Linked DNA regions of Homo sapiens: region 1 is linked to region 2. The links come from fine-mapping of genetic effects on gene expression. A gene starts in region 2. The other region holds a variant in brackets. All regions are shown on one strand. Distances are from middle to middle. Region 1 overlaps PPP3CC (protein phosphatase 3 catalytic subunit gamma). Region 2 holds the start of PPP3CC (protein phosphatase 3 catalytic subunit gamma).

Evidence for each region. PIP is the estimated chance that this variant, and not a neighbour inherited with it, causes the effect.
Region 1: its variant is fine-mapped to the expression of PPP3CC in whole blood (TOPMed, PIP above 0.99).

What each region holds. Positions count from the first base shown.
Region 1 is chr8:22,534,173-22,546,066 of GRCh38, forward strand. PPP3CC (protein phosphatase 3 catalytic subunit gamma) reads left to right here. Exons shown (of 14, transcript NM_005605.5): 13 at 5,297-5,326; 14 at 6,443-6,953. The coding sequence ends at 6,630. The region is part of intron 1 of LOC124901905 (a long non-coding RNA gene); the gene reads right to left. It also overlaps a transcript of SORBS3 not described here. Among named protein-coding and RNA genes, the nearest start is that of SORBS3, 12 kb to the right of the region's middle. The variant A/T (reference allele first, on the strand shown) is at 5,359.
Region 2 is chr8:22,436,231-22,448,124 of GRCh38, forward strand. It overlaps PPP3CC (protein phosphatase 3 catalytic subunit gamma), which reads left to right and starts at 4,848. Exons shown (of 14, transcript NM_005605.5): 1 at 4,848-5,228. The coding sequence starts at 5,180. RefSeq lists silencers at 4,431-4,620, 4,711-5,370 and an enhancer at 8,244-8,403.

The sequences.
Region 1 (11,894 bases), 98 kb after region 2:
CGGATCACAGACCAAGACTGTTTCAAAAAAAAAAAAAAAAACAAACACCACAGTGAGGTACCATTACATACCCACTAGAATGGCTAAAAATTAAAAGTTTGGGCCAGGGCATGGTGACTTACACCTGTTATCCCAGCACTTTGGGAGGCTGAGGTGGGAGGATCACTTGAGGCCAGGAGTTTGAGGCTGTAGTAAGTTATGATTGTGCCACTGCACTCCAGTCTGGGCAACAGGGCGAGACCCTGTCTCCAAAAAAAAAAAAAAGAGTCTGACAATACCAAGTATTGGTGTGTTTGTGGAGAACTAGTACTAGGTATGTTGCTAAAGGGCTTGTAAATTGATTCAAGCGCTTTAGAAAACTACTGGGCAGTAAAGCTAAACATATGTCTACCCTGTAACCCAGCAGTTCCACACCTGGTGTATATCCAAGAGAAACTGGATGTGTTCACCAAAGGTTATGCATGGGAATGTTCACTGTAGCTTTATTCATAATAGCTCAAAGCTGGAAACAACCCAGATGTCCATCAGTAGCAGACTACATAAATAAATTGTATTCCGAAATATAAATAAATAAACTGTATTCTATTTATACAATGGAATAATACTCAGCAATAAAAAATAACACATTATGGACACATGCTACAACATGGTTGAATCTCATAGACATTACAGAAAACTGCAAAAGCCAGACATAAAAGAGCACAGACTGTCTGATTTATATAATATTTAAGAACCATTGGACTAATCAGTGATAATAAAGTCAGAATGTCACTTCCTCTGGTGGGAGAATATTGTCCCAGAAGGGCACAGGGAACATCTAGAGTGTTAGGAATGTTCTGTATCATTATCATGGTGGTAGTTAGACATGCGTATACTTATGTAAGAATGTGTTGAGCTGTACACTTCAGATTTGTGCACCTGCTGTGCCTCGTGTATATTTTGTACCTTAAAGAAAACAGTTTGAGGGGGTTGCAGTTTCTCAATCAGAGAGGGAGTTTGCCTCTTTCCCTGCAGCCATATTCTATTCCAGTGCCAAAATCACCTCTTCAATCAGAGTACCAATTCTGAAATTTACCCAGGAGCTGACTTCTTAGGAAAGGGCTTTCTGGAATCCCGGAATGAAAAGGTTGATGTTCGTGAGAATAAACATGCAAGGGGAAGAGACAGGAGATCATATTACTGGGTGACTAACACTAGGTATGAAAATTGGTATTGAAGCATTAATATCTTAAACTAAAGTTTAACTGCTTTTTTTGCTCCCCTTGTTTTGTTGAATTGTTTCTATTTAGTTTTTTTCCCACCTCATCGTTCATCTGGCCTTTTTTCTTTTTCTTTTTTTTTCCCAAGAGACAGAGTTGCCCAGGCTAGAATGTAATGGCTAGGTACTGTCATAGCTCATGGCAGCGCCCGGTTGCTGGGCTCCAGCAATCCCCCTGCCTCAGCTACTCGAGTGGCTGGGACTACAGGCATGTGCCACTGTGCCTGGCCATCCTGCCATTTATAGGAGTCCTTTTTCTTTTGTAGAAATTTCATTGCTATTGACTAACAGGGACAAACCCATTTTTTTTCTTTTCTTGGAGACAGAGTCTTGGTCTGTTGCCCACGCTGGAGTGCAGTGGCACGATCTTGCCTCACTGCAATCTCCGCCTCCCAGGTTCAAGCAATTCTCCTGCCTCAGCCTCCCAAGTAGTTGGAACTACAGGCGTACACCGCCATGCCCGGATAATTTTTTATATTTTAGTAGAGATGGGGTTTCACCATGTTGCCCAGGCTGGTCTGGAACTCCTGAGGTCAGGCAATATGCCCGCCTCAGCCTCCCAAAGTGCTAGGATTACAGGCGTGAGCCACCGTGCCCAGCCCTTTTTTCTTTTTATAAGATTGAATTCCTCCTTCTCTTTCAAATAGAATACTGAGATATTAGAGTTCAGCTATTTAGAAGGAAGTCTGAACATTTTCTCTTTGGAAGTATAGTTTATTTTCCTAGTTCCTTTAGTTTCACAGAAAGTATCAGTAAACTATTTCCGATTGAATATTTTTCTCAAATAAATGTGCAGTTTTTTGTGAGCAGAATATGTTCCCACCATTGCTTTGCTTGGTAATTAGTCATCTGAGATATTCCGAGAGCAACTCTGACAACAAAGATAGAGTAATAGGCAGTAACATGAGTTAAGAGAAAAAAAGGAATGTCCTATAGCATCCTTAGGTAAACATTATGAAAATTTGCTGATCCACAAAATTGTTTTAATTGAAACCAACTTTGTCTAAACCTTGAGAAAGCAAATCTGCAAATCAGGGCTGAGCAACAGAATTATATAGCTATGTTATTTGGAAATTTGTTTCTAATTCTTGGTCACCTTTTGGGCTCAGCCCCAAAGTATGAGTTGAATATGAGTGTTTTAATCAAGATAGGACCATTGATTGATACTTCCAAAGTTGATAGAAATCTTCAGTAATGTGTGAGAACAAAGGTAAAGTTGGAGCCAACTTTTTAGAGTTTCTTATTCTTATTGATTCACAGGAAGTGAGTTTATTTTGTTATTTTCACATTGGAGTCTCAGTTCCACCAGCTCATTGGCTAACTGGAGCATTAACTAAAAAAGACCTTTTATTGTTCATATAACTTAACTTGGAGAGCTTTCAACCAACAGTATCCCATATGGCCATGTAACATACATTCATGTATGTCTCACCTTGATCTAAGAGGGATTGGCGTGAGTTACAGTATACATGAAACATAGTGGAGTAAAATAAATATGCTTGGAAATTGAAGCACAAAGGTAAATAAAAATAAAGCCAATAGCCACAAATTTGACTCTAAGCATCCCAGTAGCCAAAATAGTGGGGAAAGCCAAGGACAGGACAAGATTCACAAAGACCATCAGATTAAAACAGATCAGTTATAAATTGGACTACATCAAAATTAAAAACTCTGTACTGCAAATGGTACTATCAAGAAAATGAAAAGACATCCCACAGAATGGTTGAAAATGTTTTCAAATCATATATCTCCTAAGAGATTGGTATCTAGAAAATATACTCTTACAACTGAATAAGAAGACAACCCAGTTAAAAATGGGTAAAGAATTGAATTGACATTTTTCCCATGAAGACATACAAATGGCACATGAAATGATGTTTGACATCATTAGACATTCAGAAAATGCTAATCAAAACCACAATGGGATACCACTTCACAGTCAGTAGGATGGCTGTGAAAAGACAGCAGTTAATAAGAAGTGTTGATGAGAATGTGGAGAAATTGGGACCTTCTTAACACTGCTGGTGGAAATGTAAAATGGTACAGCTGCTTTGGAAAACATTCTGACAGGTCTTCAAATGATTAAACATAGAATTGACTTATTACTCAGCAATTCCAGTCATAGCTACATACCCCACAAAGAAATGAAAATATGTCCTCGCAAAAACTTGTACACAAATGTTCATAAATGGCATTCAACATAATAGCCAAAAAGCAGAAAAAAGCAATTGTCCATAAACTGGATAAACAAAATGTGGTAAACGCAATGGAATACTATTCAGCCATAAAAAGGAATTAAATGCAGGTATACATGTCAACATGACTGAACCTTGAAAACATTATGCTAAGTGAAAGAAGTCAGTCACTACAGACCACATATTATATGATGCCACTCATTTGAAATGTCCAGAACAGACCAATCTAGAGAGAAAGTAGATTCGTGTTCAACCAGGATTAAGGGGAAGAGGTGAGGGAAGGAAATGGGAAGTGAGTGCTAATAAGTGGGGGATTTCTCATTGGGGCAATGAAAATATTCTAAGCACAGATTGTGGTGATGGTTGCACAGCTCTACTATATTAAAACCATTGACTTGTATACTTTAAACAAGTGAGTTTTGTGGTATATGAATTCTATTTCAGTTAAGATGTTAAAAAGGAAAACAAAAGTTCGGGTCATTTGATATGACTGTTTCTTATAATGGCCCTTACTGCAGGCTGCTATCTTTATACCCAATGTGAATAGCAATTCTGGGAGGGCCCCAAACAAGGTAATATCATACACATTTTACCGTGTAGCTTTTAAGCTCTAATTAGACCAACACTCAGTGTAGAGTTTCAGCAATGCTTTGTTCTCCCACTTCCTAACAGTTACATCAGTGATGTGCTGTGAGAAGGCACTGTAGCTTTCTTGTCAAGGGTATTTGTTCTACTTAAGGAGATTAGAGAGGGTGTGACAGTGATTTAATACATGCCTGCCTATGGTTGACAAATGAAAGCACTTCATAAGTAGATTTCAGTTATCCATTTTTCACATTCCATTAGGTAGTTAATGTAGTTCTTTCAGTTTCTCTTCTCATATTGATATATAAAGCCTTGGGAATAGCAGCAAACTGTTACTGCTCATTATTCTTCACTGCCTTCTTTTGGCAAATTGGTACTGGAGTAACTGACAGGGTTCTCCTAATAGGATCTTTCTTGTGGCACCCTGTACCTTTTCATATATTAGCGTTTTTACTGTCTGAGAAAGGAGATGCAAGGAAGTTTACCTGTTGGTACTAATTTTTAAGTTGCTTCCTTTTCCATTGCTAAGAAAGAAGAGGGCTTTCTTAGTTACTGGCCAACTCTCTTGAACACTGTATGGAAGCCATATGGATTGGAAACATTAGCCTCTGCTATATTTTTATAGCAGATGGGTACACACATTTGCATTAGGAATTCAATAGTTCTATGCTTTTGTTAGCTTTGTACTCCACTCCTGGACAAGAAATAACCCTTCACATGGAACCTATTTTTCTCTCCTTCCAAATGCCAGTCTGCTGTTCAAAGGCCACTCTTTTTTTTTTAAATGAAGTAATTAATAGGGCAGTTGGACTCCAAATAAGTCACTTGAGAGCAGTAAGATGTAGTTGTAAATAAGCTTTTTGAATAGGACCCAGCAGTAGCTCATTTAATATCACCTGAGATATTTTACAAACTAAGGATTGTTGTGATGTCAAACTATTTGATTCTACATGTTGTTTCGATACGTGGATATCAAGATATAAAGTAGCAGTTGGCTACCTAAAATGAAAAGAGCAATGTTCCATGGCACCTGAAATGTTAAAAATATTAGAAACTCTCCCCCACCCCATATTCCTCCCACCCCAATTGAGTCTCTCGCAATAATCTTCTCGCTTCTCTAACTAGTTGACTTTCATTATGGATGGGGATAGGCTAAAAAACGGGCCCCTGGGATGGCTGTGCTGCCATCAGTGCTGTTGGTTTACTCACTCTTTTTCTGTCTTCGTTTTTGCATGCTACTGCTCCTGCCCTCTTACAGCCACAGTAGAAGCGGTAGAGGCCCGGGAAGGTATGGCCATATTACTCTGATAGATGTGATCC[A/T]TGTGTCTGTGTACTGGTTTTTCGAAGCTTTATCAACATTTCAAATATTTTATTATTGCATCACCAGAACTATAACAGTGAGAAAAGGTATAGTTGTTTCTAGGCATGTTAACGAAGCAGGTGTTTCCTTTGTGTCCTATCTTTGCATTAATTTTAAATAACCTTCACCACAGCTACAGTTTTTTTTCTGGGCTCTATCAGCTTTAATGCAACGGCAGAAGCTTAAGCAACTGGTCATGAGAGGTCAAGTGGTTTACTTCTGTATCCCTTCCATGTACAAGAGACATCCATTTGATTCTCAAGAGAGCCAAATAGGTCAGCCTCTTCAGCGATTCTAAAAGATTTCAAGAGCAGAGGCAGAAGTAGACTGGAATTTAGTTCAATTCATTTCTGAGGTTGCCCTAAGGTAGGCAAGTTAAATTAACTTTGTTTCTATGAAAACCATTGGAACTGATAAACTTGTATTATACTTGTAATTGTTTTATTAGGTAAGATGGTTCAAAACGCGAATGCCTTAACTTGGTGTTATAAAAGTTGAATCGGAAGGAAAATATGTAGAAGCTATTTTTAAGTTTTTAACTTATGTACAGCTCCTGGTTGTGCAAGATAGAAAGCTGTCCTAAACGAAAAGATTAGCTCTTTTGTTACTTTTTTTTGTGGTCTATGTGGCCTTTGTGCGAAAAGCAACTACCCTGGGTTTAACTTGTTCAATTATTCTAGTGTTGCCTTTGTTCTAGCATTGAGTATGTTTCTGGTGCATAAGACACTCTTTCTTAAAGGTACTGGGGCCCAGTAAGTACTTGTTAGCTTTTTGTTAGGTATATGTCTACCATGATTATGCATATAGAGCTTTTATGAAAATTACTTTCACAATTTCAGCTGCCCTTTGGGCTTTAAGGAAGCAGTAGCTGCAGCCAAGACTGATTCAGTCAGACATTGCCCATGACTTTCACTAGACGTGTGCTCCATAGCCACCTTTCTGTGTGTTTCTCTAGGAGGTTGCTGTGTGCTAAGAAACTTTTTTTAAGCCTGTTGCTTTGCTGCCTAATTGAGCTCTCTCCACCTGCTTCCTGTTTTTCTGTAGCCATCAGAGGGTTCTCGCTTCAGCACAAGATCCGGAGTTTTGAAGAAGCGCGAGGTCTGGACCGAATTAATGAGCGAATGCCACCCCGAAAGGATAGCATACACGCTGGTGGGCCAATGAAATCTGTAACCTCAGCACACTCACATGCTGCGCACAGGAGCGACCAAGGGAAGAAAGCCCATTCATGACTTAGAGTCCTGCCGTGGCTCAGGTGGATCTAAAACTCAAGAACAAATTCTATTTATTTATTATTGGAAAATGAAAAGCAACTCAAAACAACTTCAACGTGGAGGTGCATTTATAATTCAGTCTGCATTTATTCTGTAAAAAGGTGGCTGTTTTATAAATTCTTTTAATTTATGTTCAATATATATAAAAAGTGCATCTGTTTTGTTTTTCCCTTTTTTCTCCATAATTTTAAGAAATGAATCTGATTGTTGTCAACACATTTGTGAAGTCTTGTGCTATAAAGGGGAACTTCCCCTAATAAAAGGGCCTTGGAAACCTCAAACCTGGGTTTCTGACTTGAACTAGTCAGTCTTCATTATTGTTTTTTGGAAGGTAATGTCTTTCATGTAAGACTAATAACGTTTCAAATGCAAGAAGATTTTTTTCCTTTTCATTTTTTTCCTTTTCTGCTGGGTGCCATTGAAGAAAGTCCTCTTAGATTTCAGTGGCTAAAAGTGCTTCCCTTTTGATGGGAAACTGGATCATAGTAGAACTTCAAAGTGAATAACCCAAATCCAGTGATTTTAAGGGCGAAGGGAAATGTTTTCTATAATAACCTACTTTCTCTGGACTCTCAGTTCGTTTAAATATGTTCTAGTAAACAAAATAAAAAATAATAAGGGATGTTCTTAGATTTACTTAAAATCTGTTCATCTGACCATGGGCATGATTGGTTTAAATTTCCTTAGGACTTTGGAGGAGAAAGATTTTCAGAAAGCTTTCACAATTGCCAGATTATTTTACTTTCATTTTTGAACCCCAGGTGACTTCTGTAAAGGAAGTCACTTTCTAAATATTTGATAAATGCCCTCAGCAGCACCTTCTACAACAAGATGTATATATGCCCTTCTAGGCTGTTGGCATCAGCTCTCGCATGTGCCTTCCCATCATCCTTCTGTTGTTCCCTGTCAGTATTACTGAAACCAGCTGGGGTAGTAGAAACTGACAAGAGTTCAATGGTCCCCTTGTGAATTGAAGGTCTTGCTAAAGAACATTGGATAAGTGAGGATTTCCTGTCTTCTATATCAGTTACTCTTTAGGTTGAATGGTATTTCAGCCTTCATTAGCATATTTTGGAATGCGAAAAGCAAGTGTTCAGATGTAGTGTGTGAATTATCTTCCCTTAGTTTGATTTTCAAGTCACAACCAACTAGTGAAGGAAATTTTGGGGCTACTTAGGCTCCCATTTTAACTAGCCTCATCGCAGGAGCCGTGTCATAATAGTCATTGGTCAGCTCTGCAGTGAATGTACATGCCTGGGAACATTACATCAGAGCATGGAACGTGCACATTTATGGCATTCCTTAGTGTCATTTGTGATGCGGCAGTCTAGCACTAAAGCAAGTATTTCAGACAGTAATACTTCATATTGGGAGTTTCCAGGAAACCAGAAAAACAAAGAACAACATAATTTTGGTGGTGTTTTTTTTTTTCCCCAAAAAACCATACTTCTCATTAGAAGAATGAAGACTTAGCCCATCTATCTCTGTTTTCCTATACCTTTTTTTCTAACAGTTTCTGATTTGTTTATGGCAGAAATCAAGGCACTCTTAGGGAATGGAATCTGCCTGCATAGATTGCTCCATTAATAAAAAGATAGGAAGGAGATAAAGGATCTCTGAATGGGTTGTGAGTAAAACCTGTGAAAGAAGGGGGGAAAAGTCTCTAGTAACTGTCTTTTCCTGATTGTTGTTGAACTCAAATCGGGTATTAAGCACCTAGATATCCTTATGCTCCTTTCTTTTCCAATCCCAGGATTAGAAAAGATCCTGTCTTTGGAAATTTCACTGATGAAAGTCATTCCATGTGACAGACTGCAGAGCTGCTAGTACCTTATCCCTTTTCTCCTTTTCATTAAGGCTGTTACATATATACAATCCACAGGTAGAAACCACTCTTAGGGGCCTCCATAAGCAGGCAGTAGTAGAAATAGTTACTGTAAATCCTTATAAGCAAAAAATAATATTTTATTACGGATGATTATTTAGGAATGGCTTCACTATTGTCTCAAAAAGCAGAATGATAAAGCAAGTTTCCTTGACAGAACCATCACAAAATTATATACAGTATTTCACTGGTTCCCTCTGAGCTGTGGAGGAATCAGCCAGAGTAGAGAGGTAGGTGGTCCTGGTTCAAGAAAACCTGAGTAAGTTTTAGAGCAGCACTAACTCTTAGAGGAGGTTAAGTTTGAAAATTCGGTTGAATTCTAAAGATAAAGTTATCCCTTCCGTTCTGTAGCTGTTTTAATGTAAACAACAACTTCCAAGATGGCTGGACCCTGCCCTGGGTTTGCTCGAAGACTACTTTTCCTGTCTAGGGCCATGATTAAACAGACATTTTAATTGCTGTCAAAGTTCTGCAGTTTTGGTGTTTTCAAAGTCTCTTCTGTTTTATTGAATGTTTCCCCCTGTGTGTGCTAAAGATACTGGAAACAGTTACATTGTGTTTTCCTTCACAGGACCTTCCTTGTGGAAGGCCCACAGGGACCTTCTTTTTCTGCAACTTCTCCCATTTAGGAAAACAAAAACAAAACAATTCCTCAGGCATGTCAGGACTCCTTTGTAAACTTTTCTGAAATGCCATTTTGAAAATGATGCTTCACATGGACCAGGTTTCTCACTTTTAGTGACATACATATCACAGGACATTTAAATCGATCAGATGATTATTTCTTTTACAAATTTGAAAACTCATCTAATGTAAGTTCAAAACATATATCCTTTTTTTATTTCCGTGTTCTGAATGTTTAGAGCAAAAGCAAAACAATAAGCCAAGGGGGTGTGTGTGTGTGTGTGTGTGTGTGTGTGTGTGTGTGTGTTTCTTTAATAGAATGATAAAACAAAAATAGCCTCCGTTTTCCTTAAACTCTCAAGGTGACACTTTGGTTACAAGTAGAGGCATTGCTGATTTGCTGGTCTTTTGTGACTGGATATTGATTGGCAAGGTAAGAATTGCTTATCACACTCTGATGAGCTTGATACTGCTCCTTGCCTAGGAGTAAAAGACTCAGCCTCTCCAGGAACATCAGTATTTTTTATGTCTTTCATTGCCTTTTTTGGTTCTTCCATGAACAATTCAATGAAGCAAGTTTCTCTCAATAGCAAAGATTTGCCTTCTTAAGATTAGCTTTCTTTGCCATCCTGATAACTTAGGGATGATTTCCTGACATTGTTCAAAATAGGAACAGAGAAACCCTTATTTGTTTTGTCAATAGACTATTATTGAATGTCATTAAGGAGCAAGGGAAGATTTTTAAAAATTGGATAATTTCGGGGCCTTTTTTGCCTTTTGGCATTGTCCCTTAGATCCTCTTCCCTCTGAGTGCTTTAAAAACACACGGTTTGAGGCACAGCTGATCTCTATAGGAAAAATATTATAAGCCATGCCTGCATGAGACACAGCTGGACTTGCTGTTCATGGTCATTATTCAGGAGTCTCTCCAGCCTCAGAATGAGTAAAGCTAAAATCTGCTCCCTCTACCCTGCCCTATTTTATGTAAATATGGTAGCTGATCTCCAAAATTTTCAACTGTACCATATCTATAAAGTTTAACCTTTTAAGAATTTTCATCCAAGCTGGGCGCGGTGGCTCGCACCTGTAATCCCAGCACTTTGGGAGGCTGAGGCCGGTGGATCACAACGTCAGGAGATCGAGACCATCCTGGCCAACATGGTGAAAGCCCATCTCTACTAAAAATAACAAAAATTAGCTGGGTGTGGTGGCACATGCGTGTAATCCCAGCTACTGGGGAGGCTGAGGCAGGAGAATTGCTTGAACCAGGGAGTTGGAGGTTGCAGTGAGCCGAGATTGCGCCACTGCAGTCCGCAGTCCGGCCTGGGCGACAGAGCGAGACTCCGTCTCAAAAAAAAAAAAAAAAAAAAAAAAGAATTTTCATCCTGACCAATCTGGGTGACCAATCAATTAAATTGGTTTAGGAAGAGCTTGCCCTAGATTGGTTGATTTCATAATTTTTCTTTTTATTAATTATTGGGTTTTTCTCTCTGATCTCTGCATTGAAAATTATTTCCTAAGCCATAAAGACTTGTTGAGGTACCATTCTAGAATCCCCAATATTTATTCTAGTTGTTATAGTAACAGTGGAACCCAAGTTTCTCCTAAAGCATTACCCAGCTTTCCTTGCCCAGGCAGAAAAGATGGCAGAGGGAGGGTGAACCCAGGGCCCATCTGTGGGTATGGGCTCCAATTTCCTAAATTGTTTGTGGTTATAACCATGGCTTCCACCTTGTCTGGCACCGGGTCCACATCTTTTCTGAGACCTGCTAGAAGGTGAGTAAAGGACAGCCTAGGAAGGCCCAGCAGTGGATTGAGGAGGGTCGGGTTACCTGGAGGACGGGTCCCAAAACTGGCTTGCCACAGTCCCTTTCAGTATTGCTGTGATGAGACGCCTGGAGGAAAGCTGTCAGAGCAGATGTGTGTAGAGGAAGAAAGTTGTGTAGTCGAAGGACAGTGTTGTTTACTCTTATCTTGAGTGTGAGTAGAGAACTGTATTAACAATAGGGCTTTGTGCCATTGACAGAGTGTGAAAGAGGGAGCCTATATTACATTGGGGTTTGGGACCTGACCTGCCTATATCTAGCCAGCGAGAGTGAATGGGGTCAGTGTTAGCTGCCTTCATCTATGCAGTCACAAAGGTAAAGATGATACTGGAGAGTATATTCCCTCCCGGGAGGCCTTGGCCTCACGCCCCTGCCACCTTGGCAAGACCTGCTAAATAACACCTTTGTCTGAGACAGGGTTATGCATCATCTCCTCTTCTATGCCCTCATGGCAAGTCTAGGTGGCTTAAGATTAAGAAGTGAGGACATGGAGGCGGACTGTCCCTCTGAGCAGCTCTGAAGTAGGGCCAAGCACACTGCCTTCCAGTAAGTTCTTGCCCACATTCCTTCACTCCCTTGACGTAGATGTCTCCAAATACTCTTAACATGAAATGCATGTAATGAGGAGCAGGCCTGTCATAGATCTTGATTTGGGGCAATAAAGATGTGTTTTTGTCACAGAACTTTTTGAGGATGACACTGTAAATCCCTAACTTTTATTTTCTCAGTGCATGGTGACCCCCATAGCTGTTTTTCCCAATAGTTCTGTCAGCAGGCATTTTCCAAGAAGGGGCCCCAGTATTCCTTCCTAAATGGTGAGGTGGTCAAGACGTCAGACCAGTTGGTGGTGTGATATTTTTTCAAGGTTCTGAATGATGGATTATTTG
Region 2 (11,894 bases):
GGCTGAGGCAGGAGCATTGCTTGAGGCCAGGAGTTGGAGCCCAGCCTGGGCAACATTGCAAGACCGAGTCTCTACAAAAAATTTAAAAAATTAGCTGAGTGTGGTGGTGTACACCTGCAGTCTCAGCTACTCAGGAGGCTAAGGTGGAAGGATTGCTTGAGCCTGGGAGGTTGAGGCTGCAGTGAGCTGTAATCATGCCACTCCAGCCTGGGGGACACTCCAGCCTGGGGGACAGAGTGAGACCTTATCTCAAAAAAAAAAAAAGTTGATTCTGGGGTCAATGTGGACAATGGATGAAGATAAGAGGTCAAGACCAAAGACTCAGGGACCAGTTAAGAAGCTGATGCAGCGGAGGGTTAGCCCCTATTCACTCCCAGCCTTTATGCCCTGAGAATAGCTGATTCTATTACAGAATCAGTTGAGATGGATTCCCGCAGAGAGCAAGACACGTTCCCTGTGTCTGCCCCAAACAACCCAAAGTCTTTTGAAACCTCTACTAGGATGGGAAAGCACCAATGCGATGGGTGAAGGTTTCTGGTGGTCTCAGCTTATACAGATCAAAGCCTTTCCAACCTGGTTTCCTCCCGGAGAAATCCATGGATCTAACGCCCTCTTCCAAACACAGAGATAGAAAGTGAGGAGAACTATTAGGAGCAGGGCTGCAATCCCAGCTATCGGGAGGCTGAGGCAGGGAGAATTGCTTGAACCGGGGAGGCGGAGGTTGCAGTGAACCTAGATTGTGCCACTGCACTCCAGCCTGGGCAGCCTGGGCGACAGAGTGAGACTCTGTCTCAATTAAAAGAAAAAAAAAAAAGAAAAGAAAAGAAAAAGAAAAGAAAACATTGCAAACCAATGGGAAGGGATGTATTATTCAATAATAGTAATGGAAAAATTAACCGACTACTGTATTTAGATCTCAAGTTGGGGCCATCTCATAACATCCAAATAAAATGAACCTCATTTAATGTGTTCCTATAGTTCAGTCTGTTCTCACAGCAAGCTCTGGAGCCTGAGTTGTACCACAAAGATATTCTTACCTTGAGGCAAACTTAGTCTGACCTGGAGGCCCTGATAGCCATTGCCCCTAGGACTGGGGGAGGGATGGTCATAACTCCTTAGGGGAAGGGGCGCCCATTCAACCTAAGGCAATTCTCTGGAGAAGGGGCAGCAATGAACTGTCAGCCACCAGCCCTCAAGAAACAGGCAGAGTACGGTAGCTCATGCCTATAATCCCAGTACTTTGAGAGGCCGATGCAGGAGGATCACTTGAGCCCAGCAGTTCAAGGCTTCAGTGAGCTATGATGGCACCACTTCACTCCAGCCTGGGCAACAGAGCAAGACCTCATCTCTCTCTTAGAACAAAAACAAAAACAAAAACAAAAACAGCAGCAACCAGAAGATGGTTATCCCTCATGGTGAAGGGGATCTGGGCAGGGCATCCCCGCCTCTGCTACAGGGAGGGCCTATTAATATTATCATCCCCATATTACAAAAGAGGAAAGCAAGGCCTGAGAAGTGAAGGAACTTACCCATGCCCACAGCTGGAAGTGATGGTATCAAGGTCTGTTGGGTGTCACTGGCTGTTGCTGGAAGACTAAGCAGCTATTGAAACAGAGGACCAGCAAGGAACTTGGAGAAAGGCAGAGCTACTGAGTGAATCTCCTTAGAAAGGGGTGGGGAAGGCCGAGGCGGGCAGATCACGAGGTCAGGAAATCGAGACCACCCTGGCCAACATGGTGAAACCCCATCTCTACTAAAAATACTAAAAATACAAAAAAATTAGCTGGGTGTGGTGGCATGCGACTGTAGTCCCAGCTACTTGGGAGGCTGAGGAAGGAGAATCACTTGAACCCAGGAGGTGGAGTTTGCAGTGAGCTGAGATCACGCCACTGCTCTCCAGCCTGGTGACAGAGCGAGACTCCGTCTCAAAAAAAAAAAAAAAAAAAAGTGGGGGTGGGGACACGAAGGGACAGGGCTGCAAGTTGCTCACAATTACTTTGCTAAAGCCAAGCTACAGAATGACATCTGGATTCTGTAAATTCATGTATACCATGCTTGAGGACTCATGCCGCATATTCCACGTGGTGCTATAGAAAAAGTTCGTGGTGCTATAGAAAAAGTTCAGGTACTGCACGTCTCTTGACGATGATGGTGTTCACTAAGCCTCCTACCAGCTCTGTGACTTTGGGCAAGTTTCTTCACATCTCTGTGCCTCAGTTTCCTTATCTGTAAAATGGGGATAATCATATAAATGGGGTTGGTGTGAGGATTGAACGAGTTAGTATTTGTGGGGTTTTTTGGTTTTGTGTTTGAGATAGATGGAGTCTGTCTCTGTGCCCAGGCTGGAATGCGGTGGCACCATCTTGGCTCTCTGCAACCTCCGCCTCCCGGGTTCGAGCGATTCTCCTGCCTCAGCGTCCCGAGTAGCTGGGACTACAGGCGTCCACCACCACGCCCAGCTAATTTTTGTATTTTTAGCAGAGATGAGTTTTTGCCACGTTGGCCAGGCTGGTCTCAAACTCGTGACCTCAGGTGATTCGCCCACCTCAGCCTTCCAAAGTGCTGGGATTACAGGCATTAGCCACTGTGCCCGGCCTGCAACGTTTTCTTTTTCTTTTTTTCTTTTTGGAGACAGTCTCGCTCTGTCACCCAGGCTGGAGTGCCGGGGCGTAATCTTGGCTCACTGGAACCTCCGCCTCCCGGATTCAAGCGATTCTCCTCCCTCAGCCTCTCGAGTAGCTGGGATTACAGGCATGTGCCACCACGCTAGGCTAATTTTTGTATTTTTAGTAGAGACGGGGTTTCACCACGTTGGCCAGGCTGTTTTCAAACCCCTGACTTCAGGTGATCCGCCTGCCTTGGCCTCCCAAAGTGCTGGGATTACAGGCGTGAGCCACCTTGCCCGGCCCGCAATGTTTTTTCTTTCTTTCCTTCTTTCTTTCTTTATTTTATTTTTTTTTTGAGACGGAGTCTCGCTCTATTGCCCAGGCTGGAGTGGTGCAGTGGCGCGATCTCGGCTCACTGCAAGCTCCGCCTCCCGGGTTCACGCCATTCTCCTGCCTTAGTCTTCCAAGTAGCTAGGACTACAGGCGCCTGCCACCACGCCCGGCTAATTTTTTGTATTTTTAGTAGAGACGGGGTTGCACCGTGTTAGCCAGGATGGCCTCGATCTCCTGACCTCGTGATCCACCCACCTCGGCCTCCCAAAGTGCTGGGATTACAGGCGTGAGCCACCCCACCCGGTCTTTTTTTTTTTCTTTTTTGCCGGCCCGCAATGTTTTCTTAAACTTTTTATTTTTAGCTATCCTGTTGAGGTTCTTCCAGATGAATTTTAGCCTCTGACCCAGGGGTATGATTTGATAGGCGTGGAGTTCTGGTTACTTCTTAAATGAAGAGTTTCCCCAGGATATCTGAACAATTCTCTTGGGTGGAAGACTCAAGGATCATGAAAACGAAAACCAAATTCTAGTCGGCTCCTAAAGTCCTTTTGCCTCCTGCGGTTACCATCAAAGAGCTATGGTCAAAATTCCAAGGGATAATTCAGGGTCTGATTCCACTATATATCCCCAGACCGCCTATACATAAATCCATATTATTGGAGATTTACGCTTAATCCTATAATCTTTTACCTAACAGCTGTCCAGTAGAATTTTCTGGATGTCCAATAAGGTAGCCGCGTGTAGCTCTTGAACACTTGAAATGTGGCTAGTCCCCTAGAGGAACGGGATTAATTTAAATTTACATAGCTACAACTACTTATCGGTCACTGCGGTAATTGTTAAGACTGGTTTTGCCTGTAACTTGCATATGTTTTATTGGACATCAGTTTCAATATTTCATTTGCATTGCTAAAAGTCAAAATCCTTTTGACTTTGCCAGTTACTCAGTGAGAGGACAGTTGGAGCCAGTTTCTGTTCTAGGCTTACAGTTTTAAGGACAGATAAAGGTTAGTTTTTAACCTCGAGATGAACAGACTGTTAAGTTTCTACGGACTTGCCCATGGGGTTCCACAGTGAGCCTGGGCCGGGGAGGCAGGTACTGTGTCAGGGGGAAGAAAAAAGGGGCTTCTAGCTGGGCAGGTGACACACAGGGCATAGGAAGAGGTCAGTTCTTGTGGCCGAGGAGGTCCGGCCCGGGGGTCCCAGGAGCAGAGATCTCCCTTCTCTTCGATGTGGAAAGTGAGGAGGGAGCAGAGCCTTGCTCAGAAACGGAGCTCCCCCAATCCCCCACCGCCCTAGCTACTGGACTGGAACTAGGATGGACACGAATGTCCTTCTCATTGTACTAACTGCACTCAACAAGCGGGAAAGATGAAGCGAGGGGGTTTAAATGTGTGCGTTTGTTGAATGACCCACAAAAACTGAAGGAGCGCGGCCGGACTGATCACACTCCTTGAGACAAAGCGGGTGGGAGACCCAGAGGTGAGGAGGGTGGTCGCCTGTGGGCGAGGACTGGGAGGCCAGGGGTTCTCGGCGAGGCGGTCCCAGGAGGCGGCGCGGAGCCGCTGCGAGGCCGCAGGGCCGGGTCGCAAGATGGCCGGGCCGGCCTCCCGCGCGGGTCGCGCGGGCCACGCGGGCGGGTTTCAGATGTTCCGGGCCCGGGTAGGGGCTGGCAGGAGAGAAGGGGCCGGCTGCGGGGAGGGCTGGCTGAGAAGAAGCGAAAATGGGCGGTTAGCAGCAGGGACCCGGAGCCGGAGGAGCCGAGAGCAGCGCGTGCGCCGAGCTCTACTGCCTCGCGGGAAGGCGGAAGGGTGGGGAGGGCGGCGCTCGGGGCGGGAGGCCCGGCCGGGTCCGCTAGGACAGCGGGGCCGCTGGGAAGTTGTGAGAGCGGCGCTCGGGGGCGCGCTTGCGTGCACGAGGGCCCGGGCCGCGAGCAGCCGCGGCCGTCCCGGTCGCCACCCTTAGCAGCGGTCGCGGTCGGTGCCGAAGCGGTGTTCCCCGCCTTAGCCGCTGGCGCCTCCCAAGAGAGCGGCCGGTGGGCCCTCGTCCTGTCAGTGGCGTCGGAGGCCGGCGCTGCGGTGGCCGCGCCCTTCTGGTGCTCGGACACCGCTGAGGAGCCGGGGCCGGGCACGGCTGGCTGACGGCTCCGGGCAGCTAAGGCTGCCCGAGGAGAAGGCGGCGGCCGCGGCGTAGGCGCACGTCCGGCGGGCTCCTGGAGCCTGGAGGAGGCCGAGGGGACCATGTCCGGGAGGCGCTTCCACCTCTCCACCACCGACCGCGTCATCAAAGGTGCCTGGCGGGCCGGGCCTTCCTCTGGGACCCGCGGGAAACGGCCTTCGGCTGGGCGGCGGCTCGGGGCGGAGGGAGGCTGGGGCCGGGCTGCGCCCACCCTAGGAGGGCTCGGAGGGGTGTAGACAGAGCCGGGCGGCAGCCTCCGAGAGCAGCCACCCGGACCCGGCGTTTTCTGCTGCACCTGGTCAGGTGCCTGGCCGTCAGTGCCAAGTTCCCTCCCGAAGGGTTCAGGGTGCAGTGGGGACTTCTTCTCCCACCGCCCCGAAGGGCCCGGATCCCTGTCTTTTTTTCTCTTTAAGAAACGACTCGGGGGAAGCCATCGGGGGTGGTGTGAGCAGGGAGTCGACTCTTCCAAGTAAGATATTTAAGATTAGATCTTTCTTGACGTCCGCCCCCCACCCTTTTTTAGGACGTATACCATGTGCCTTTTGACCCGCTTTCTCTAGATCATTGCAAGTCACTGCTATTACTGGAATAAACTTAGTATGAACAAGTCAGATAAATCCATTATATGATGTTTAAAATAAGTTTACGGAGCTCTTGACAGGGTAATGGTATTTTATTTTCCCTTTGGTTATAAAGACTTGGAGAATGACGTTTTCTGATTCATATGTGTACCTGCGTTAGATTTCTGTTGTTGTTATAAGAACAAAATGTAAAGGGCTCTTTGCTCTCTAAATCTTGTAGAGTTTTAGGTTATAGTTGTTTCTCCCTTTAAACTAAGAAGATGGATTACACATAACCACTAATTTATGTGCTGCTTTTATTCAGCCGTAAGTCTTAGGCACAACCCTTCTCTCTGAGATTAACAATCGGTTTGAAAGCGCTATTTTGTAAGAAGGGAATAGACTTAGACCAGCTGTGTTAGTGGCCTCTGGATGCAGGGGTTAGCGTGACAGTGGGGAAAATTATTAAGATACTTTTCTTCTTTTTCATTTTGGTATTAGAAGGAGAAAGGCAACTAATACTAGTGACGGGAATACATTTTTAAAAGGTGAAACGCCTTATTGCATGTTCAGGGAGGGGGAAGAATTTTAGTGTATAACTTAGGTTTCCCCCCTCTCTCCCCAAATCAGCCTCATAAATGTTAATTATCTGTACTACATAATTATAATGGGATTTTTGAGATTTATCTGCTTAGCATTTGTATGCTATCGTTAGAGGTTTAACTGAATTGTTCATCTAACTGACATTATCCCCTGAACAGCTAAATTATTGTGACCATTTAAATGTGTCTTCATATTATTAGTGTATAGCCTATAAGAAGTATATAGCCCTCTCTTAAGATTCAGAGTGTACTTAACATAACCTTTTTTGAGGAATCAAGGTCATTATGTACATTAATTTCTGTACTGTGCTGTTAATATGGCCGGTGCGTTCTGCTGTATAAAGTTGTTAGCAGTTTCGTCCTGTACTAAAATGACTTCGCAATGCTATACCAGTTCAGTGTTTTGTTTGCTTTTAGTTTCTCTCTCCAGTACTGTTTTCTGTCAAAATATGCCCTTAACTGCTTTCTAATCTGCTACGTCTTAGCTGAAGTAGGCAGGGAAACCAGATAAGCCAGAACTGTGGGTCAAGTCAGAATAAATAGGATCTTAGTGAAGCTTAGTGCAGCCCTCAGGAATCTCACAATCAAATCACCATTGTGCCATGTAATTTCCACCATAACATGCCATAAGATCAAAAGAAGATTAAAAATCTTAAATGACCCTTAAATATAGTAATAAATATTGTAAAATAAAATGTAATAAAATAAAAAAGTTAAAATGCAGGGGCTAGGGGCAGGCATGGTGGCTCACGCCTGTAACCCCAGCACTTTGGAAGGCCCATATAGGCAGATCACTGAGGTCAGGAGTTCGAAACCAGCCTGGCCAACATGGCGAAACTCCATCTCTACTAAACATACAAAAATTAGCTGGGCATGGTGGCGGGCACTGTAATCCCAGCTACTTGGGAGTCTGAGGCACGAGAATTGCTTGAACCCGGGAGGCGGAGGTTGCAGTGAGCCAAAATGGTGCCACTGCATTCCAGTCTGGGCAACAGAGTGAAACTCTCTCTAAAAAAAAAAAAAAAAAAAAAGCAGGGGCTGGTTTATTGCTACGCATGCTTATTATTAAATAAACACTGTCATCATATCCTGCAGGATGCAAATTTGTTCTTTACCAAAATTAATTACCGAATATTGTGTACTTTTAAGACTGCTCTTAAATAAATGAAATAGAAATAATTTCAGGTCCTTAGAATGTATGGATTTCTCTCCTATATAAAAACTTCGGCATAAGAGCTTGACCACAGCATTTGTGGCTTCATGATGACTTATGGTGCTTTTTTCAGGGTTTTCCAGAGTTTGAAATAGTTGAAGAAAATGAGGTGTCACGTGTGCATAGCTAAGGTCCATTGTAACGGGTACTAAACCCTGGTCTGATGCTATCTTGTTTAGTCACAGCTGTCTGCATTTATTCACAGCTTGAAAGCTTTTTCAGAGGTGATACCACACCCCAGCTATTTTTGTTTCTGTCATTTCCTGTTAACTTTAAAGTGTACCTAATTGTTCTATTTGAGCAAATTTTGGAGAAGAGTGGGTATGTGGGAGAGGTTTGTATTTTAGGTGTCCTTTAAATAGCAGCTTTCTTAAATTGAAGGATGTGGCTGGGCGTGGTGGCTCACACCTGTAATGCCAGCTACTTGGGAGGCTGAGGCAGGAGAATCGCTTGAACCCAGGAGGCAGAGGCTATAGTGAGCCAAGATTGTGCCACTGTACTGTAGCCTGGGCGACAAGAGTGAAACTCAGTCTCAAGCCAAAAAAAAAAAAAAAACTCATCTGTAAAATAGGGTTAATAATACCTTCCCTGTCAAGCCTGGGTCATGCAAGTGACATAAAGCATGTGAAAAGGTCAAGTTAAGGTAGTACTTTGAGACATGATAATAGGTTGGTAATAGATCGCTTACTACAGAAGTAGTTAGTAGAGATATCATTAACATTTGAAAATATCAGAAAGTATGTGAAATTATAAGCTACAAAACTGTTCCTAGTCAGGTGAATACCTATTCTACAGCATAATGGATATGTGGGTGAAATCTCGTCGGTAACAATGTGAAGAGATCAGCACAGTTCTGTCTGGTACTCCCTAGGCAGCAGATTTCTTCTCTATCTGTTGAAGGTGTTTATTTTATGTTTAAACCTTCTTATGATTTTACTCATTCATTAAATGTTTATTGAGTGCCATCTGCAATGTACCCTAGTAGGTTGCTCATTCATTTCTTCTTTGCTTTAAAAGTAGCATTTCTGTGAGCCTTTAGAGCAGTTTATATGCACTGGGGCACCATAACTGGTATCTAAGCCAGAGAACTAGGCACCCAAATGATTAAATTGTGATATTCTGTCTGCTTTATTTTTTTTTCTAGTTTCCACGTTCCTTTTCCTGTTTAAGGACATGTTTTTTCTTTGACAGTGATTTTTATAAAAGCAGTTTATTTCCCTGGAATGAATCTTTTCAGAAGCAACAAGGAAATTTCAGTAGGAATTACATGACAAATATAGAGAATCCATTGTCTTATTTTGTTACTTTATGGCCAGATGGGGTTTAACAGAAAAGTCAGATTTCTTTTTAGTAAGGTGCTGATACATTTCTCCCTTTCTCTTAGAATTCAAATATATTGTGTATTCACAGAGTACTGTACCATTTTTACCACACATGGCAGGCTACTGTTTCTTTAATATCGTGGCACTGGGAATATTGTGCTTATGGCTTTCTTAAAATATTTTAATATTAGTGTGGACAAAAATTGCTATTTCTACAAATATACCCTAAACCCGATTTCAATCTCTGGTACCTATACTTCATTTCTTTCCACAACTCTCCCCCGACTCTCCCTTTTTTATATCCATAATGGATTTACCGAGGGTTTAAAATTTTTTCTCTTAAATATAAGCTTAATCCTGCTACTTATACAATTTGAAAATCAGAAAGGGAAGAAAAGAAAGACTTCATATTCCTTCCCAGCAGAAATAACTGCTTTTAATACCTTTGTGTGTTTCCATCTGCAGGTATATTTTGAATTCAAAGGAAAATGGATCACACATATTAAAGCTTTTGTTATGCAAATATTTCATATTATTTTAACATAAATATTGTAATTTTACCTAAATATTTCCATAATGGTTTCAATCAGCATGGAAATGGTTTTAGAGTGCTTATATTAATATTTTGGTTCTTTATATTTTCAGTGGGGACACATTAGTCACTTGATACAATACCAACCCAGAAGAAACATTTTCAAGTATAAATTTTCAATGTGAATACGTTTTAAAGTTGATATCTCCTGGATTTGTCAACAGTATTTGTTTAATTTATGCTTCATTTACCATTGTGATTAACAAGCTGCCAAACTTTTGAAACATTCAAAATCAGTGCTAATCGAGATTCATACATCTGAGTAGAAATCTGGAACCTCTGAAAGGGCATCTTAATTTAAACACTTAATTTTTTTCTTTTTGAGCAAGGATAAAGTATTCTTTCTTACCTATACGTTATTGGTTGTGATCAAAGCTTTATTTATGGTCTGACATTTGATAATTAAGCTTTCTCTCTTTTATTGCATTTTAAAATAGGATTAAAAATTTTTTTTGCCTTACGTAATTTTTAGTGTACCATAACTTTTACTGGAGTGTATATGGGAAAATGTACAAATTATAAATGTACAGCTTAGTGAGTTTTTACAAATTTAGCACCCACATACCCATGTAACCACTCAACCAAAATAAATAGATTACCAGAATCCCAGAAACAAGCATGAGTTCACGTTCAGTCCACTGGTTTCCATCCCTAAATGGGCAACAGTGGGGAAAATATGACACTTGTAACCATTATTCTGGCGTCTAACGTCATATTTGTAAAGTAACATACTAATCACATCTTACTGTAAAGTGAAAAAAACAAGGGACTCTGAGAGAAAAATGCTAAGGACTCATTACTTAAAGTGAAATAATTAATTAAAGACCTTTTCCTAAGCAGTATTTGATACTAGGAATTGAATGTCTTTCTATTAAGGTAACATTTTTGGAAAAAGCTAATTTTTAGGCCAGGCGTGGTGGCTCACGCCTATAATCCCAGTACTTTGGGAAGCCGAGGTGGGTGGATCACCTGAGGTCCGGCCAACGTGGCGAAACCCAGTCCCTATTAAAAATACAAAAATTAACTAGGCATGGTGGTGCACACCTGTAGTCCCAGCTACTTAGGAGGCTGAGGTAGGAGAATCGTTTGAATCTGGGAGGCAGAAGTTGCAGTGAACTGAGATTGCGCCACTGCACTCTAGTCTGGGTGACAGAGCAAGACTCTGTCTCAAAAAAAAAAAAAAAAAAAAAAAAAAAGCTGATTTTTAGACATGTCTCTATTAGAGACAAAATTATTCATTTAATTCCGGGATTTGTAGTCATTTTGGAACTTTGCTGCTACTTAATTGCTAAATGACTAATGGGAATAAAGGGATGTCTTAGAATCATTACCATCCTTTGGTGCAATCATTACTAGACTATAATGCCCGTTTATAGTTTTTTTTGGTGGGGGACAGGGTCTCGCTCTGTTGCCCAGGCTGGAGTACAGTGGCGCGATCATGGCTCGCTGCAGCTTCAGCTTCCTGGGCTCAGGTGATCCACCTCAGCCTCCCGAGTAGTTGGAACCACAGGCATAGCATACGCCACCGTGTCCAACTAATTTTTTTTTTTTTTTTTTTTTTGTGACAGAGTCTCGCTCTGTCGTCCAGGCTGGAGTGCAGTGGCGCAATCTCGGCTCACTGCAAGCTCTGCCTCCCGGGTTCATGCCATTCTCCTGCCTCAGCCTCCTGAGTAGCTGGGACTACAGGCACCTGCCACCATGCCCGGCTAATTTTTTTTTGTATTTTTAGTAGAGACGGGGTTTCACTGTGTTAGCCAGGATGGTCTCGGTCTCCTGACCTCGTGATCCGCCCGTCTCGGCCTCCCAAAGTGCTGGGATTACAGGCGTGAGCCACCGAGCCTGGCCTAATTTTGGTATTTTTTATAGAGGTGGAGTTTCGCCCTGTTGTTGAGGCTGGTCTTGAACTCCTGGGCTCAAGCGATCCTCTTGCCTTTGTCTCCCAAAGTGCTGGGATTACGGTGTGAGCCACTGCGCCCTGCCTTTTATAGTCTTAATGTTAAAATTTAGCAGCATTTTACATTTCAAAACTGAGGCCTAAAACTTTCAACCTAACCTAAGTGGTATCTTTCTTAGTTACCCTTATATTCTATCTGGTTATCCAGATGAATGTAGAGAGAACTTTTAGTTCCCCATATTCAATTTTGTTTTGTTGGCACTTTAGATTATCCTGAAGTCTTTTAGTTTCTTGAGTCTTCGTTTGTTGTTTGAAGAGGGTTTAACTTGGTAACCAGGATCTTTAAATTGGGCACAGAAAGATATACTGGATGGCTGGACAAGATAATGTATTTCTTTGATGATCATTACTAGATTTACTAATTGCTAACAGTTCATGAAGGTTTTTTTGCAGTGTCTAGACAATGTCAGCCCAAGAGACTGAAATTCTAAATGAACAAACACTGAGAAATATTTGAAGAATTCATTCAGTAATTACCTATGTAACATTCTTGCTAAAGGTGTTTAATTTAAGCTGAGCTTAGTTATAGTAGAC